Regions from separate parts of the Homo sapiens genome. Here all the other regions are linked to region 1. The links come from fine-mapping of genetic effects on gene expression. A gene starts in region 1. Each other region holds a variant in brackets. All regions are shown on one strand. Distances are between the middles of the regions.

Region 1 (2,764 bases):
ATCACCTTGTGGTTCTCCCAGTCTGCATGCTAATAAATTTGTATGCCTTTTCTCCAAAAGAAAAACAAAACAGGTTTTTTTTTTTTTTGAGACAGTCTCACTCTTTTGCCCAGGCTGCAGTGCAGTGGCATAATCTTGGCTTACTGCAACCTCCTTCTCCCGGGTTCAAGTGATTCTCCTGCCTCAGCCTCGCTTGGGAGCAGCTGGGACTACAGGCGCGCGCCCCCACGCCCAGCTAATTTTTTGTAGAGCCGGGGTTTCGCCGTGTTGTCTGGTCTCGAACTCCTCAGCTCAAGGATCCGCCCCGCGGCCTCCCAAAGTGCTGGGATTACAGGCGTGAGCCACCGCCCCGGGCCTCACATTTTATTTCTATTGGCTAGCGCTGCTCTAAATCTTCTGTTCCTTCTGCTACACCAGGCCTAACACTCAAAATCCCTGCCAACCTTTTCCTTCCTGAAGCTTCCCTCCCCTTCCTCAGCTCTGGCGACCCTGCGCTGTGGTGGTTCTCCAACCACACTCATTCTCCTCAGCTGGCTCCTTGCTCTTCTTCCACCCCCTCGTTGCAAGTGTTCCTAAGTGTTTGCCTTGGCCTCCTCTTCCCCTTCCTTAGCTTAGACTTCTCCACTGCTCCAACATCAACTGGAAATCTATGGAATTGATTCCTGTTTTCAGCTCCAGTCCTGTTCACAGGGCATTTTCACCTGCTGGCACTTCCAAAGTGACACTTCCAAACCACTTCCTCGCCCTCCTCTCTAAACCAGGTCTTTCTTCCTAACTTCCTTATTTCTGAGAATGTCTCTGCCATGTTCTAAACTGAAAACCTCCTAGTCAACTTCACACTTTATTCCCTGATCCTCAATTGGTTCCCATGTCCCGTTAGTGTTTCTTGTAAGCCTCTGCCACCACCGCAGATCGAACTCTAATCACATCTCACCTGAATTATGGAAAAGTCACCTCAATTCTCTCACCCATCCCAGCCTCCACTATGGATTAATATGCCTAAAGCAGAGCTGACCACAACGGTGAGAAGAATCTGAGAGGGAAGCAGCAGCAAACACAAGAGTCACTGGACATGCATGCCTCGAGACAGTCCCGACCAAGGAGAAAGCATCAGACCCCGTCTTCCGCCTCGAACAAGAGGCGTGCGGACTTCGCCCAGAATGCTCGTCGCCCCTGGACAAGGACACACCCGGGGCGTGAGGCGCGGAGTTTCACCAGTTGCTCAAGCAGACCCAGCCCAAGACGCTTCCTCTTTCTCCTACTCCACTCCAGTTCAGACGGCTACTAATCCCGGCCCAAGGCACCTGCGCCCTGAGACGTCTTCGAGCAAACAGCATTTCCGGACCAAGGCTCCCCGGAATCTCTCTCCACCCGGCCGCGCCCGAAGCCCGAGAAACGGGCCGCCCCTCCTGGTTTCCCACACGGGGTTCCCCAGCCCCAACCGGCCGCGCCCCGCCCCTCATCTTTTAGGACACCGGCTTCGCGGCCCGGGCGGCCACAAAGGGCCGGGCCCTGCCCGCGGCCGCCCATGTCCGCGGTGCCTTCCTGGCTTGCCCGGACTCCCCATCACGCACATACGCTTCCCCGCCGCCCCGCTGCCGCCGCGGCTCGTAGCTCAGGTTCCTTCCAGACCAGCCGCTGTTTTGTTTCCGATGTGAAACCGCGGACCCCGGAGCTGCCTGTCCCAGGCCCCGCCCGAGAACCCTCACCGTTGTCGTCATTTCCGGCTCTGGCGTCGTTGGCGGCCGGCCCACGGAGGAGGGGAGGAGCCAGGAGGAAGGGGGCGGGGCCTCCGGCCTGGAGAAACGATTGCGGGGAGAACCCAGAGCTCCACCTGGCCTTCCCCACCTGACGGAATCCGCCCAGAGCGCTGGCGTGGGTTGTCGGGGTTCTGAGGCTGCTCGAGCTGAGGACGAAAGCCCCTATATAAATTGGGCCCAGCGTGTGCTTCTCCCGGCATACAAGCGATGGCCATCCTAAATTTAACACCTGTCATTTCTTTAGGGTACCTATTTGCGAACCAGCTGCATCACAATCAAGAGAATGCTGTTAAAATCGCAAATATCTCTGCCCTCTCCCACCACTCAATGAATCAAAACTTCTGGTGGGTGGCGAGAACCTGAGAAACTGCATTTTAAACATCCTCCGCGATTCTTGGACTCCAACTTTGACAACCAGTCTTTCTAGGTGGCAAGCTAGCTGAGAGCAGAAAATGTGTCTGGTTTGCTGGGTCACTTGATTTTTGCATCTGCCTGCTCTTTGTCCAGTTTTGGTAAAGACAGTACCAATGTCTAATTCATTAGACAGCATACCACACTTACACATATATCCAAAAGCTAAAACTAAAAAATGAATACTACCTTATTTAATCAAGGTGAACGGAGAAATGTCAAACATGGGTATTCAAAAAACCGAAAATGAAATTAACGGTACATGGTATCTGGGCAAGTTACATTCTTCTAAAGTTTCTTTAAAAATCCACCCCCAAGCGGCCGGGTGCAGTCGCTCACGCCTGTAATTCCGGCACTTTGGGAGGCCGAAGCAGGCGGATCATGAGGTTGGGAGTTCTAGACCAGCCTAACCAACATGGTGAAACCCCGTCTCTACTAAAAATACAAAAAAATTAGCCGGGTGTGGTGGCGCGCTCCTGTAATCCCAGCTACTCGGGAGGCTGCAGCAGGAGAATCGCTTGAACCCGTGAGCTGAGATCACACCACTGCACTCCAGCCTGGGAGACAGAGCAAGACTCCATCTCAAAAAATAA
Region 2 (2,500 bases), 68 kb before region 1:
TCAAGATATTATCTAATAAAAGTTACCTACTTTCTGCATTATACTTGGAATTTTTGGATACTCTCCTTTGAGCTTCCGGGTCTCCTTCTGCCATATTCACCAACCACACCATTGTTGCTGTTGGGAAAGACAAAATTCCAGGTAAGCACTGGACACACAAAGTATGCATAGACAACAACAAGCCATCATTTCTCCACACAAATCGCCAGTCTTCCTAATGCTGCCTTAAGACTGTTCAACAATCAGAAGTAAAAATAAAAAAAAGGTTCTCTTTGGTTTTAGCAGGTAAGAGAAGAAGTTCTGAAACTGAATGTTTACTGTAGTACTCAAACTGCACCTGCTATCACAAAACTCTTCATCATTTTTAGTCCCTGAAAAGGAACCAGAAGGAAAACTGTTCAGGCCAGCAAGATTCCACTGAAACAATAGCTGGACTAGTTGAATGTTCTAAATTCCAGGACAAACTGGAGCTCACAAAAGCCTCAGATGGTGATTATAATTCAAAAGATGCACAGAGTAAATTTCCTTCATATTATGTCTCATTTTTAGAATGTTCAATAATGCTAAACCATGTTTTAAACCCGGCGTGAGAAAAAACGTTAAAAGCAATAAACATAATAGGGATAGTCAAGAGGCCTCCTCTGTGCCCCTTCTACAAAAATACATGTATATCAATATATCAATCTAGATCTAGATATACACATGTGCATCTCTACCACATTTTAGTTCAGAGACATTGTGAAAACTTTAAAATGGTGCTTCTCTCATATATTTCAGGCAGGAATGAAAAATGGTATAATCCCCACTGGAGGGAAATTTGGTAACATCTAATAAAACTACATGTGCATTAATCCTTTAACCCAGCAATATTACATTTTGGAACTTATCCTGAAGATACACCAACAATAACACAAAAGTACATATAAGCAAACACATGACATATGAGGTTATGGTGGGAACCAAATGCCAGCAGCAAGCTGAGTCCAATCTGGTCACAGTAATTTTTTTTTTTTTTTTTTTTTTTGAGACAGAGTCTTGCTCTGTCACCCAGGCTGGAGTACAGTGGCATGATCTCGGCTCACTGCAAGCTCCGTCTCCTGGGTTCACGCCATTCTCCTGCCTCAGCCTCCCGAGTAGCTGGGACTACAGGCGCCCGCCACCATGCCTGGCTAATTTTTTGTATTTTTTTTAGTAGAGGTGGGGTTTCACTGTGTTAGCCAGGATGGTCTCGATCTCCTGACCTCGTGATCCGCCCGCCTCAGCCTCCCAAAGTGCTGGGATTACAGGCGTGAGCCACCACGCCCGGCCTGGTCACAGTAATTTTAAACAAGATACTTGACATTTATGTCTCTCTGGCTTTTTATCAC[A/T]ATAATTTTATCCATGTTTCTAATACTCAGGCTTCTTGAAGAACTTATGAAAGAAACACACAATCAAAGAAGCTGAACGACCACCTTGTTATTTCTGAGGTCAACCAAGTTTCATTATAGGATAACCCAACCAAATGATCAAAAGTTAACAGAAACCAGGCAGGCAATACACTGTTTAACTAAATCCAGATCTAAAGAAGAAAAACTGAAGGGCAACCACCAAGTATGAGGTTTATGGATTAGTTTTTTATCTTCATTTTTTCTAAAAACAGGGTCTCACTACGTTGCCCAGGCCAGACTCAAACTCCTGGGCTCAAGCAATCCTCCCGCCTCAGCCTCCCAAAGTGCTAGGATTACAGGCATGAGCCACTGCACCCAGCCTGTTTATGGATTTCCATAGCCTTTTGGAAATGAAGCCACCAGCGATTTATTAGGTTTTCTTTCTTTATGCAAGTATGAAAAAATATAGCTACAAGCTCCTTTGTTTTAGCAGTTAATAGTAACATGAAAATCAATGTCCAGCTAACTTTTTCTGTAAATGGCCAGGGAGTAAACATTTCAGGTTTTGTGTGTCACATATTCTTCCTTGTTCTTTTTTTTTTTTTTTAAATGTAAAAAGCATTTTTAGCTTATAAGCTGTACAAAAACAAGCCATGGGCCATATTTGGCTTCAAGCAGTAGTTTGCTAACCCCATGTTAATTATCATAAATAGTATATTTGTTAAATAGTCCTAAAATAATATTTTTTTAAAAATCACTTTTCATTTCACCTTAACACAAACACCTTACATCAACAGGAAAATAAGCAGATTTCGTTTAAATTAAAAAAAAAAAAAAAGGCCAGGCATGGTGGCTCACACCTGTAATCCCAGCACTTTGGGAGTCGGAGGTGGGTGGATCACCTGAGGTCAGGAGTTCAAGACCAGCCTGACCAACATGGAGAAACCCTGTCTCTACTAAAAATACAAAATTAGCCCGGTGTGGTGGTGCATGTCTATAATCCCGGCGACTCGGGAGGCTGAGGCAGGAGAATTGCTTGAATCCAGGAGGCGGAGGCTGTGGTGAGCCGAGATCGTGCCATTGCACTCCAGCCTGGGCAATGAGAGCGAAACTCTGTCTCAAAAAAATAAAAT
Region 3 (2,500 bases), 59 kb before region 1:
TGAAACCCTGTCTCTACTAAAAAATACAAAAAATTAGCTGGGTGTGGTGGCGCGTGCCTGTAGTCCCAGCTACTCGGGAGGCTGAGGCAGGAGAACGGCGTGAACCCGGGAAGCGGAGCTTGCAGTGCGCCGAGATTGCGCCACTGCACTCCAGCCTGGGCAATACAGCGAGACTCCGTCTCAAAAAAAAAAAAAAAAAAGAAAGAAAGAAAGAAAATTCAGAATATAAAAATATAAAAATAATTTTAAACACTGAAAAATATAAAACAGGTATAGCTAAACTTGTAAAGGAAGAATTGATAACTTGTATTCACATTATTGTCACTTAAATGCATTTACATTTAAAAATTTCATGTCTTGCCAGGCACAGTGGCTTATGCTTGTAATTCCAGCACTTTGGGGAGGCTGAGGCAGCAGATCACTTGTGCTCAGGAGTTTGAGACCAGCCTGGCCAAGATGGCAAAACCCCGTCTCTACCAAAAATACAAAAAATTAGCAGCTCATGGTGGCAGGTGCCTATAGTCCCAGCTACTCAGGAAGCTGAGGTGGGAGGATTGCTTGAGCCCTGGAGGTGGAGGCTGCAGTGAGCCAAGATGGCGCCACTGCCTAGGTGACAAAGTAAGACCGTGCCTCAAAAAAAAAAAAAAAAAAAAAAAAATTTCATGCCTCAAAGTGGTCATGTCTCTTCATATAATAATATATATGTACAATATAATATAGTATATATAGAACTATAATATAATATAGTACAGTAATAAAACACACATACACAAAGAAATCTCTACTCTCACCACTTCTACCTCAATTTGTTTGAATGAGAAGTCTGCCCTGCTCTGAAGTGATGAGATTTTCAACTTGTTTGATTCTGCCACATTCAGTACTATTTCAGTTTTATGATACACTCTCCCTTAAAGAATTGCTAAATGATAAATCTGCTTATTTTTTAGAGCAATTAAATTAAAATTGCTTTTGCTTTGAAAATTTCAGAACTTTTTTGACAAATTAAATCTTGAAATCTTGTAAAAATGGAGCCGAGAATCACTACTCTAAACATTGGGTACAAAAATCTCTTTTGTTTAAAAGCAACTCAAAGCTCTGTAGAGATACTCATTTGTATGATGTGCAGACAGAATGGAGGGTTGATGGTAAAAATATTGTAATACGGTGAAAAGAATATTGGACTTGGGATTCAGATTCGAGATCAGAGTTTA[G/A]GCTTAGGCAAATAATTTACCTCTGTAAACTTCAAGTTTCTTAGCAGTAAAACAGGGATAATAACTGCCTTGATACTTCATAGGATTATACAAAAATATAACACTGGGCTGGGTATAGTGGCTCACACCTGTAATCTCAGCACTTTGGGAGGCTGCTTGAAGCTAGGAGGTCAACACCAACCTGTGCCTGTAGTCTTATCTACTCGGGAGGCTGAGACAGGAGGACTGCTTGAGCCCAGGCTTTTGAAGCTACAGTGAGCTATAATCGTGCCACTTCACTCCAGCCTGGGAGACAGAGTGAGATCCTGTTTCTTAAAACAGAAAAAAATTTACTGATAGACATTGTTCTAAGTGTATTATTGTATTAAATGGATCATTTAATTTAATCTTCATAACTGACATAGGAGTTGAGTAACTTGTGTGGTCAAATAGCTAGTAAGTGATGAGTAGGCTGGGCGCAGTGGTTCAAGCCTGTAATCCCAGCACTCTGGGAGGCTGAGGCAGGCAGATCACTTGAGGTCAGGAGTTTGAGACCAGCCTGGCCAACATGGCAAAACCTCGTCTCTACTAAAAATACAAAAATTAGCTGGGCGTGGTGGTGCGCACTTGTAGTCCCAGCTACTCGGAAGGCTGAGGCAGGAGAATCGCTTGATCCCGGGAGGGAGAGGTTGTAGTGAGCTGAGATCACGCCACTGCACTCCAGCCTGGGCAACAAAGCGAGACTCTATCTCAAAAAAAATAAAAATAAAAAGTGATGAGTAGAATTTGAACCCAGACATTCTGTCTCCAGACCTGGCATTCTTACTCACAGCTAAGCAAGAATAGATGGTTACTTTGCAAACCATCAAGTACTATACAACATAAGGTAATTATGAAAGTCAGAGAGAGTATATGACTTCTATAGTTCCACAACTGATTACTCAAATACAAGAACAGAACCAGTTCAATCCTATTTCCACAGACTTCTTCGTCAATCAAATGAGGATGATGTTTCCTATTACAGGCCACCAAACATTTTAGTAAGTATGTAAATAATGACAAAAGTGTATGGCCAGGCCGGGCACGGTGGCTCATGCCTGTAATCCCAACACTTTGGGAGGCCGAGGCAGGTGAATCATGAGGTCAGGAGATCGAGATCATCCTGGCTAACATGGTGAAACCCCGTCTCTACTACAAATACAAAAAAATAGCCGGGCGTGGTGGCAGATGCCTGTAGTCCCAGCTACTTGGGAGGCTGAGGCAGGAGAACGGCATGAACCTGGGAGGCGAAGCTTGCAGTGAGCCAAGAT
Region 4 (2,500 bases), 44 kb before region 1:
CCCAGGCTAGACTGGAAAACCTGGGCTCAAGCAATCATCTCGTCTCAGGGTCCCAAGTAACTGGGTCTACAGGTCCGTGCCACTGCACCTGGCGTGAAACTATGATTGATTGACTGATTGATTGATTGATTTTGAGATGGAGTTTTGCTCTTGTTGCCCAGGCTGGAGGGCAATGGCGCAATCTCACCGCAACCTCCACTCCCCAGATTCAAGCGATTCTCCTGCCTCAGCCTCCTGAGTAGCTGGGATTACAGGCACTCGCCACCACGCCCAGCTAATTTTTTTGTATTTTTAGTAGAGACAGGATTTCTCCATGTTGGTCAGGCTGGTCTCGATCTTCTGACCTCAGGTGATCCGCCCACCTCAGCCTCCTAAAGTGCTGGGATTACATGCGTGAGCCACCACGCCCAGCTGAAACTATGATTTTTAAATGACAAAATAATAGTCTACTCATACGGATAAACCCACAATTGAACCTTTGCCTTATGCATGGAATCTGTATTGTTTTCCCTTTCTTTCCCCAATTTTAATTTACATTAAAATGAACATCCTACTTCACAAATATTTTTCTGCATTTCTAATTCCTTCTTTAGAATATATCATAAAAGCAAAATTACTAAATCAAAGTGTACAAACTTTTTCTAATTACTGATTTAATTAATACACACTGGCTTAGTTACTTGACAAAAAAGACTAATCTTGACAAAGTCAATATGTCAAATATGTTAATTTGTTATTTTCATATGCATTTCTTTTATTACTATGTTATACACACACATTTCAACAGGCCTTTCTCATCTTGCAAAAATCCCTAGTTCAGCTTTCCTGTGCTAAAGGGTATGAAAGAAAACAGCCCTGCTGTTTTATAGTACACAACAGTATCTTCTCTAAACCCTAAACTATCAAGGCCAGAAATCATCTGACTTTAATAAGTTATAGTTCCTTTTATAACAAATTATGTATAATAATTAACTGCCTTTCCTGTTTTTAACATTTTAAGGTTTGGTCTTTTAGTTTCTAGGGCTTGCCACAGACATTGCATAAC[C/T]AACCACTGATATGAAAAATCCTCAGGGTTTATTTCCAAACAGGCTCTGGCAAGTTACTCAATCTCTGACTCAAAAGATCCTTTTAGTTATACTGGGTGTCAAAGTAAACAACTTGTTTCTATATAATTGTTTGTGTGTGCTAAGACTTGAACATTAAAAAACATCACAACACAAATGAACAAGTAAATGTGGAGATCTGGCTGAATACAAACCTCTTAAACTGTCTAAAATGAAGGATAAGGCTGGGCGTGGTGGCTCAGGCCTGTAGTCCCAGCACTTTGGGAGGCCGAAACCAGTGGATCACCTGAGGTCAGAAGTTCGAGACCAGCCTGGGCAACATGGGGAACCCTCATCTCTACTAAAAATGCAAAAATTACCCAGGCATGGTGGCGTGTCCCAGTAATCCCAACTACTTGGGAGGCTGAGGCAGGAGAATCACTTGAACCCAGGAGGCGGAGGTTGCAGTGAGCCAAGATCATGCCACTACACTCCAGCCTGGGCGAGAGACTGAGACTCCGTCTCAAAAAAAAAAATAAAATAAAATGAAGGATGGATAAAAGATGTACAAATGCGACAAAAAATATATTAAGAAAGGTTCCAGATAAGATGGAGTAAGTACCTTCCACTCTCTCTATCCCACTGAATACAGTTACAAAACCTGGGCAGAAAGCAGGCAGCAGCTGGTTGCAAAAGATGAAAAGTAATGAGAGGTAGGTGGGCTGGGGAATTAGAAGTACTAGCAGTGAGCTGACCACTTTTTTTCCTCCACCTGTGCTCATTACAACATGAGTGGGCATTAGCAAGACAATGGGAGCTCCAGAAGACCTCTAGTTCTGGCTTGAGGATCAGGAAAGAGGTCTCCTAACACCCAGACAGTGTAAAAATCCAGTTTTTCTTCCTTTTTTTTGGAGACAGAGTCTCGCACTGTAGCTCAGGCTGGAGTGCAGTGGCACGATCTTGGCTCACTGCAACCTCTGCCTCCCGGGTTCAAGCAATACTCCTGCCTCAGCCTCCTGAGTAACTGGAACTACAGGTGCCCACCACCATGCCTGGCTAATTTTTTGTATTTTAGTAGAGACAGGTTTTCACTGTGTTGCCCAGGCTGGTCATAAACTCATGAGCTCAGGCAATCTGCCCGCCTTGGCCTCCCAAAGTGTTAGGATTACAGGCGTGAGCCACCACACCCGGCATTCTTTTCCGCTTTTCTCCATTCTCGTATGCCCAGTCCTCACACAATCCTGTGGTGATGGTAATGTGGGTGGCAGAAGCCTAAAATTCAGAGGGAGGGAATCCTTACTCTGACTGGAAGAATGTCAGTCCCGAGAGAGTGGGGCAAATAGCCCTTGCTTTATTTCTCTCTCTCCTCCCACATTTTGGCCCTGACTTTAGGAAGATAAAGTCCACTTTTGGCTGCAGGAATGGAAAAGGGAAGCCCAAGAAACCACATGGAGATC

What was found. PIP is the estimated chance that this variant, and not a neighbour inherited with it, causes the effect.
Region 2: its variant is fine-mapped to the expression of PSEN1 in whole blood (TOPMed, PIP 0.91).
Region 3: its variant is fine-mapped to the expression of PSEN1 in whole blood (INTERVAL, PIP above 0.99).
Region 4: its variant is fine-mapped to the expression of PSEN1 in whole blood (TOPMed, PIP above 0.99).

Annotation. Positions count from the first base shown.
Region 1 is chr14:73,135,394-73,138,157 of GRCh38, reverse strand. PSEN1 (presenilin 1) reads right to left here and starts at 1,651. Exons shown (of 12, transcript NM_000021.4): 1 at 1,575-1,651. RefSeq lists an enhancer at 1,192-1,301 and silencers at 1,472-1,531, 1,792-1,871.
Region 2 is chr14:73,204,003-73,206,502 of GRCh38, reverse strand. It overlaps PSEN1 (presenilin 1), which reads right to left. Exons shown (of 12, transcript NM_000021.4): 9 at 31-117. Among named protein-coding and RNA genes, the nearest start is that of PAPLN, 32 kb to the left of the region's middle. The variant A/T (reference allele first, on the strand shown) is at 1,368.
Region 3 is chr14:73,194,633-73,197,132 of GRCh38, reverse strand. The region is part of intron 7 of PSEN1 (presenilin 1); the gene reads right to left. Among named protein-coding and RNA genes, the nearest start is that of PAPLN, 42 kb to the left of the region's middle. The variant G/A (reference allele first, on the strand shown) is at 1,212.
Region 4 is chr14:73,179,071-73,181,570 of GRCh38, reverse strand. All of the region lies in intron 5 of PSEN1 (presenilin 1), which reads right to left. Among named protein-coding and RNA genes, the nearest start is that of PSEN1, 44 kb to the right of the region's middle. The variant C/T (reference allele first, on the strand shown) is at 1,046.